2 linked regions of the Homo sapiens genome follow. The gene in region 1 interacts genetically with each later gene. Each region holds a gene or a part of one and is shown in the gene's direction. Other genes may lie near its edges.

What was found. A genetic interaction does not mean that the proteins touch.
Region 2: changes in SEC22B (region 1) and DICER1 together harm fitness less than expected from each alone (positive genetic interaction), as found in Homo sapiens cells (one large-scale study listed by BioGRID).

What each region holds. Positions count from the first base shown.
Region 1 is NC_000001.11:120,162,020-120,167,400, reverse strand, and holds part of SEC22B (vesicle-trafficking protein SEC22b), read left to right. Parts: intron 1-4,030; coding exon 4,031-4,191; intron 4,192-5,381. UniProt on the Homo sapiens protein: SNARE involved in targeting and fusion of ER-derived transport vesicles with the Golgi complex as well as Golgi-derived retrograde transport vesicles with the ER.
Region 2 is NC_000014.9:95,088,629-95,091,529, reverse strand, and holds part of DICER1 (endoribonuclease Dicer), read left to right. Parts: intron 1-164; coding exon 165-327; intron 328-420; coding exon 421-496; intron 497-866; coding exon 867-1,032; 3' UTR 1,033-2,901. UniProt on the Homo sapiens protein: Double-stranded RNA (dsRNA) endoribonuclease playing a central role in short dsRNA-mediated post-transcriptional gene silencing.

The sequences.
Region 1 (5,381 bases):
AAAAAACAATATAAGCAGAAGTCCACAAATATGTAAAGAACCTAGCATGTTGGAGAACAGTCCGCCATTTGGTTTATTAAAATATATGATAGAATGTTGCTTACACTTGTTTTGAAAGGCTGTAAATATAATACCATGGAGTATGATTTTATTTTGTAGGTATTAGGGAACCCTTAGAGTTTGTAAGCAGGGTAATATGGTCATCTGTAGTCTCTGGGAATAAAACTGATGGTATAGAAGATGGTGTAGACTAAAAGCAAAGAGACCAGTTAACTCAGGTGCCCAAGCAAGGAATAAGACAGCTGTATTATTAATATTATTTTAAGGGGCCTGAGAGATCATATAATAGTCTTTATCCTTTATGGAGCCCTAGGATGCCTCAGGAGCCACATAGAAAGGGCAAGGATGGGAGTATATATAATGCTTTGGGCCCCTAAACTCCTCCTTATGTTTTAAATTTTTCCCTTTTATTTTCAGTTGACATGTAATAATTATACATATTTATGGGATACAGAGTGATATTTCAATACATGTATACAATGTGTAATCAAATCAGAGTAATTAGCATATTCATCACCTCAAACATTTATCATTTCTTTGTGTTGTGAACATTCAAAATCTTGTAGCTTTTTGAAAATACGTGGTAAGTTATAGCTAGCCATATTCACCCTACAGTTCTGCAGAACACCAGAACTCATTCTTCCTATCCAGTTGTAATTTTTTATCCATTAACTTGCCTCTGCCCATCCTCCCCTTCTCTCTACCTTTCCCTACTTCTAATACCCACAATTCTACTCTCTACTTCCATGAGCTCAAAAATTTTTTTTGGCTCCTACATATGAATGAGAACATGCCATATTTATCTTTCTGTGCATGACTGATTTTATTTAACTTAATGTCCTCCAGATTTATCCATGTTGCTGCTAATGATAGAAATTCATTCTTTTTTATGGCTGAATAGTATTCCATGGTGTGTGTGTGTGTGTGTGTGTGTGTGTGTGTGTAAAAAACACTTTTAAAATCCATTATTCTCTTGATGGACATTTCTCTTGATTATCTATCCATAGATATTATGAATGGTGCTGCCGTAAACATGGGGGTACAGATAAGTTTTTAACATAATGAGTTTTTTTCCTTTGGAGAAATACCCAGCAGTGGGATTGCTAGATTGTATGGTAGTTCTGTTTTTAGTTTTTTGAGAAACCTCCATACTGTTTTCTATAGTGTATAAAAGTTCTCTTTTCTCTTCATCCTCAACAGCATTTATTGACTTTTGTCTTTTTAATAGACATTTTAACTGGGGTGAAATAATATGTCGTTGTGGTTTTTATTTACATTTACCTGAAGATTAGTGATGTTGAGCATTTTTTCATATACTTGGCCATTCGCATGTCTTTTGAGAAATGTCAATTCTGTTCCTTGCCTACTTTTTAATTGAATTATTTTTGGTTTTGCTGTTGAGTTGTTTGAGTTCCTCGTATGTTCTGGATATTAGTTCCTCATCAGATGAATGAAACTAGATCCCTATCTCATCATATACAAAAATCAACTTAAAGTAGATTAAAGACTTAAGCATAAGACCCTAAACTATAAAACTACTAGAAGAAAACATAGGGGAAATGTTTCAGGACATGAACCTGGGCGAAGACTTTATGGCAAAGACTTCAAAGCACAGGCAACAGAAAAGAAAGTAGACAAATGGGACTGTATTAAACTAAAAGCTTCTGCACAGCAAAGGAAACAACACAGTGAAGAGACAACTTGCACAATGGGAGAAAATATTTGCAAACTCCTACTTAAACTAAAGAACCTCTGATTTTATCTGATATATACATTGGCCTTCTGAATATGTTTTGCTTGTTATATATACATATTCCATATATAAATATATATATTTGCATGTGTGTGTATGTATACTATGGCTAAAAAGAAGTTGGAAAACCACTTAGTAGCCTAACATTTTTCTAAGAATTTCTCAGATGTGTAATCATACAGCCCCTTCCAGAGTGCATGGGCGCTCATCATCACAAAAGAAAGTCAGTTCCATTGTTGATAAGTTTCCAGTTGATTACAGAGTTCTCCTGGACTGTAAATTAAGGAGTCTTATTAGTCTTGTACCCAGTAAACATTATGTCATTAACCTTACATTTCTATCCACAGAAATTTCCAGTTACAGTGTTTTCCTTTGTGGCTGGAAAGAGTTTAAATATGTGTATGCTAGTTTACCATATAGAATCAAAGGGTGGATGGAGTCACAACTCTGAATTTTTCAAGAAAAAGTCTTAAGTATTAAGCAAAAAACAACCCCATTTAAAAAATGGACAAAAGACATGAGCAGATATTTCTCAAAACATACTAGAGGCTAGCAAACTAATGAAAAAATGCACATCACTAATTATTGGAGAAATGCAAATCAAAACCACAATAAGATACCATCTCACAACAGTCACAGGGCTATTATTAAAAAGTCAAAAAACAACAGATGCTGATGAGGCTGTGGAGAAAAAGGAATTGCTTATACACTGTTCGTGGGAATGTAAATTCAGCCACTGTGGAAAGCAGTTTAGAGATTTTTCAAAGAACTTAAAACAGAACTACCATTAGACCCAGCAAACCCATTAATGGGTTTATATCCAAAAGGAAACAAATCTTTCTACCAAAAATCATGCACTTGCATATTCATTGCAGCACTATTCACAATAGCAAAGATATCAACCTAGGTACATGTTAGTGGTGGATTGGATAAAGAAAATGTAGTATATATACAGTATGGAATACTATGCAGTCATAAAAAGAAATGAAATCATGTCCTTTGCAGCAACATGGATGGAGCTGGAAGTCATTACCTAAGTGAATTAATGCAGGAACAGAAAACTAAATACTGTATATTCTCATTTATAAGTTTATAAGCTAAACATTGGGCACTCATGGACATAAATATACTGAGGACTTACTAGAAGAGGAGGGAAGGAGGGGGCAGGGGTTGAAAAACTATTAGGTAGTATGCTTAGTACTTGGGTGACGGGATTGTTTGTACCCCAAACCTCGGCATTATGCAATATACCCAGGTAACAAACCCGCACATATACATCCTCAAGCTAAAATAAAAGTTTAAAATGTTAGTTGAAGAATTGTGTAATGGGCTGGGTCCAGTGGCTTACACCTGTAATCTCAGCACTTTGGGAGACTGAATTGGGTGGATCGATTGAGGTCACGAGTTTCAGACCAGCCTGGCCAAAATGGTGAAACCCCATCTCTACTAAAAATACAAAAATTAGCTGGGTGTGGTGGTGGGTGTCTGTAATCCCAGCTATTTGTGAAGCTGAGGTGTGAGAATCACCTGAACCTGGGAGGTGGAGATTGCTGTAACTGAGATCATGCCACTGCATTCCAGCCTGGGTAATCTGGGTGATGGAAAGAGCCCTGTCTCCAAAAAAAAAAAAAAAAAAAAAAAAGAGAATCTAATGGATGAAAAATTATAATAAATATGTCTAAATACTCCTTTTAGAATATACGGCTAATAGGCTGGGTGCAGTGGCTCACGCCTGTAATCCCAGCACTTTGGGAGGCTGAGGCGGGCGGATCACGAGGTCAAGATATCAAGACCATCCTGGCCAACCAACGTGGTGAAACCCCGTCTCTACTAAAAATACAAAAATTAGCTGGGCATAGTGGCGCACGCCTGTAGTCCCAGCTGCTCGGGAGGCTGAGGCAGGAGAATGGCTTGAACCCGGGAGGCGGAGGTTGCAGTGAGCCGAGATAATGCCACTGCACTCCAGCCCAGGGGACAGAGCGAGACTCCGTCTCAAAAAAAAAAAGAAAAAAAAAAGAATATACATCTAATAATGGGAAGATGTTTGCTTTCTGATTCCAAGGATTTGCGGTTTTAAATTGACTCTCGTTTAGCCAGCCTCAAAGTATTTAGGCTAGATTTTTTAAAAAGTTTGCATGGTACAGAGATTCTGCTTTAAACTGTTGTCAGTGCTATTACTTTACAGATAACTTTGTCTTGCTTTTTATGTCTCACCAGCTACATTATTGAGCAGGGGGTGTGTTATTTGGTTTTATGTGAAGCTGCCTTCCCTAAGAAGTTGGCTTTTGCCTACCTAGAAGATTTGCACTCAGAATTTGATGAACAGCATGGAAAGAAGGTGCCCACTGTGTCCCGACCCTATTCCTTTATTGAATTTGGTAAGTTTTTGCCCCTCACTTCTCTCTATCAAGGGAGCAAACAATATGGAGAAGCTATTTGTTACACTGATATAATATTTATACATTTTTTCTGATGTTTACTTGCTGAAGTTTTAGCTTCTGCATCCTTTTCCATTCCACTTCTTTTTGTCTTTTTGAGTGACTAAGGCTTTGTTCTGAAAAGTAATTTTCTCTAGTCTTTTGATCTTTCCCCCATAGAAATTGTTGCCTTTTGCCCTTTCTGTTATTTGGTTTGATTCTTCTTTAGAGTCACATGTGACAGGAACTGTGCCTAAAGATCTACTTGATTGGCATATAATGGCTGAGTTCTTCTTTACCCCAGTCCACAGACTCACACTCACAATAAGGCTCATTTTATGGAGATCAGAATTGGGAAATCAGAAAGAATGATGTTTTGTTTCTTTTAGTAGAATAAGATCCTCTAATTAAAAAAACAAAACATAACAAAGAAATAGAAGATACCTGGTACTCATGGTATTGGGGTATAATATTTACTACATTCAGGAATAGTGAGCATAGGTGTCTGTATTTGTGCAAGAATTATAGAAAGACTAATTACTAATCAGACCTGGTAAAGTATCTGATGGTAAGGGATCAAAGGAAATGTCCTAAGTACAGTAAGTACAGGGAGTGAGAACAAGTAGGATCAGGCTATATCGCTGAAATTTTTAGTTAAAAGAGAAATTGGTTTTACTGGCTTAGAATTTTTGAAGTGTTTCAAGTTTGCTAGATAAATGGGTCATCTTGCTTTGGAAAAACACTCTAGTGTTTCATAACTATATACTCTCCAAGTGCTGCTTTATATAATGTCCAGTTTTTCAAATTTTATTTTTATAGACAGTAATACTCCCATAAACCTCCCTCAAAAATAAGACAAATGTATCAGGGTCATACAGGAAACAGATGGCACACCCAAATTAGCTTAAGGGATTATATACAAAGATATGACTAGGCTGTAGGAGAATTACAAGGTACAGTAACCTCTGACCAGTAGCATACTGGTTGTTACCATCCCTAGGCCTGAATGTATAAGGGGGAGGAGCAGTTTCTGAAACTGAAAAGGAGAAAATTTCTAGAGAAGGCCAACTTGAGAGGAGCGTAACTTTTGGTAGAGGGATACTTCCAGAAGAAGGTTATTTCCTTCTCTGAAAGAAGCCAGGGGAATAAAT
Region 2 (2,901 bases), on another chromosome or scaffold:
AACATTTGTTTTACTATTACAATATAGTAGGCATACCATAAATGGTATTTCCCCCCTTACTAAAGAAGTAACAAAAGTCATATATCCAAGAAAAGAAACTACATCTGTGGACTGCCTGTAAAAGTGGCCTTTTTGCTTACAAGTCACTTTTCCCTCTGTAATAGCTTAGGAGATCTGAGGAGGATGAAGAGAAAGAAGAGGATATTGAAGTTCCAAAGGCCATGGGGGATATTTTTGAGTCGCTTGCTGGTGCCATTTACATGGATAGTGGGATGTCACTGGAGACAGTCTGGCAGGTGTACTATCCCATGATGCGGCCACTAATAGGTATTGTTGGCTCCCTTTAGAAAGAAAAAAACCCACAAAATTAAAAACAACTTCAGAGATATTATTCATATTATTCTTTCATTTTGATTGCAGAAAAGTTTTCTGCAAATGTACCCCGTTCCCCTGTGCGAGAATTGCTTGAAATGGAACCAGAAACTGCCAAATTTAGGTAAGCAAAAAATGTACATGGAAAAAACATTAACTTAAAAACATCAAAGGGGAAAAGTTCACAAAGATATTGTAAACTAATGATTCTGAAAAATATTTACACTGTGGTGTGCTGTTGTCAGATTTCTGTTTGTAATCTGATTGACTTCTCTTTTTTCCTTCTGTTTTTATGAAATAATGCTGTAATAAAGACTAGACGGCAGCCCTGTCTGTCGGGGGTATGCAATTGCAGTAAGTCGTAACGCGTGTTTCCTTTGTGTGGTGTCAGCTTATACATGGGACTCCTGGCCTGAGAGTGCACACTAAATGCTGATTGACAATGATAATAAATACTTCTGACTTCTAATTCAAGCTGTTTGGATTTTTTACAGCCCGGCTGAGAGAACTTACGACGGGAAGGTCAGAGTCACTGTGGAAGTAGTAGGAAAGGGGAAATTTAAAGGTGTTGGTCGAAGTTACAGGATTGCCAAATCTGCAGCAGCAAGAAGAGCCCTCCGAAGCCTCAAAGCTAATCAACCTCAGGTTCCCAATAGCTGAAACCGCTTTTTAAAATTCAAAACAAGAAACAAAACAAAAAAAATTAAGGGGAAAATTATTTAAATCGGAAAGGAAGACTTAAAGTTGTTAGTGAGTGGAATGAATTGAAGGCAGAATTTAAAGTTTGGTTGATAACAGGATAGATAACAGAATAAAACATTTAACATATGTATAAAATTTTGGAACTAATTGTAGTTTTAGTTTTTTGCGCAAACACAATCTTATCTTCTTTCCTCACTTCTGCTTTGTTTAAATCACAAGAGTGCTTTAATGATGACATTTAGCAAGTGCTCAAAATAATTGACAGGTTTTGTTTTTTTTTTTTTGAGTTTATGTCAGCTTTGCTTAGTGTTAGAAGGCCATGGAGCTTAAACCTCCAGCAGTCCCTAGGATGATGTAGATTCTTCTCCATCTCTCCGTGTGTGCAGTAGTGCCAGTCCTGCAGTAGTTGATAAGCTGAATAGAAAGATAAGGTTTTCGAGAGGAGAAGTGCGCCAATGTTGTCTTTTCTTTCCACGTTATACTGTGTAAGGTGATGTTCCCGGTCGCTGTTGCACCTGATAGTAAGGGACAGATTTTTAATGAACATTGGCTGGCATGTTGGTGAATCACATTTTAGTTTTCTGATGCCACATAGTCTTGCATAAAAAAGGGTTCTTGCCTTAAAAGTGAAACCTTCATGGATAGTCTTTAATCTCTGATCTTTTTGGAACAAACTGTTTTACATTCCTTTCATTTTATTATGCATTAGACGTTGAGACAGCGTGATACTTACAACTCACTAGTATAGTTGTAACTTATTACAGGATCATACTAAAATTTCTGTCATATGTATACTGAAGACATTTTAAAAACCAGAATATGTAGTCTACGGATATTTTTTATCATAAAAATGATCTTTGGCTAAACACCCCATTTTACTAAAGTCCTCCTGCCAGGTAGTTCCCACTGATGGAAATGTTTATGGCAAATAATTTTGCCTTCTAGGCTGTTGCTCTAACAAAATAAACCTTAGACATATCACACCTAAAATATGCTGCAGATTTTATAATTGATTGGTTACTTATTTAAGAAGCAAAACACAGCACCTTTACCCTTAGTCTCCTCACATAAATTTCTTACTATACTTTTCATAATGTTGCATGCATATTTCACCTACCAAAGCTGTGCTGTTAATGCCGTGAAAGTTTAACGTTTGCGATAAACTGCCGTAATTTTGATACATCTGTGATTTAGGTCATTAATTTAGATAAACTAGCTCATTATTTCCATCTTTGGAAAAGGAAAAAAAAAAAAACTTCTTTAGGCATTTGCCTAAGTTTCTTTAATTAGACTTGTAGGCACTCTTCACTTAAATACCTCAGTTCTTCTTTTCTTTTGCATGCATTTTTCCCCTGTTTGGTGCTATGTTTATGTATTATGCTTGAAATTTTAATTTTTTTTTTTTTGCACTGTAACTATAATACCTCTTAATTTACCTTTTTAAAAGCTGTGGGTCAGTCTTGCACTCCCATCAACATACCAGTAGAGGTTTGCTGCAATTTGCCCCGTTAATTATGCTTGAAGTTTAAGAAAGCTGAGCAGAGGTGTCTCATATTTCCCAGCACATGATTCTGAACTTGATGCTTCGTGGAATGCTGCATTTATATGTAAGTGACATTTGAATACTGTCCTTCCTGCTTTATCTGCATCATCCACCCACAGAGAAATGCCTCTGTGCGAGTGCACCGACAGAAAACTGTCAGCTCTGCTTTCTAAGGAACCCTGAGTGAGGGGGGTATTAAGCTTCTCCAGTGTTTTTTGTTGTCTCCAATCTTAAACTTAAATTGAGATCTAAATTATTAAACGAGTTTTTGAGCAAATTAGGTG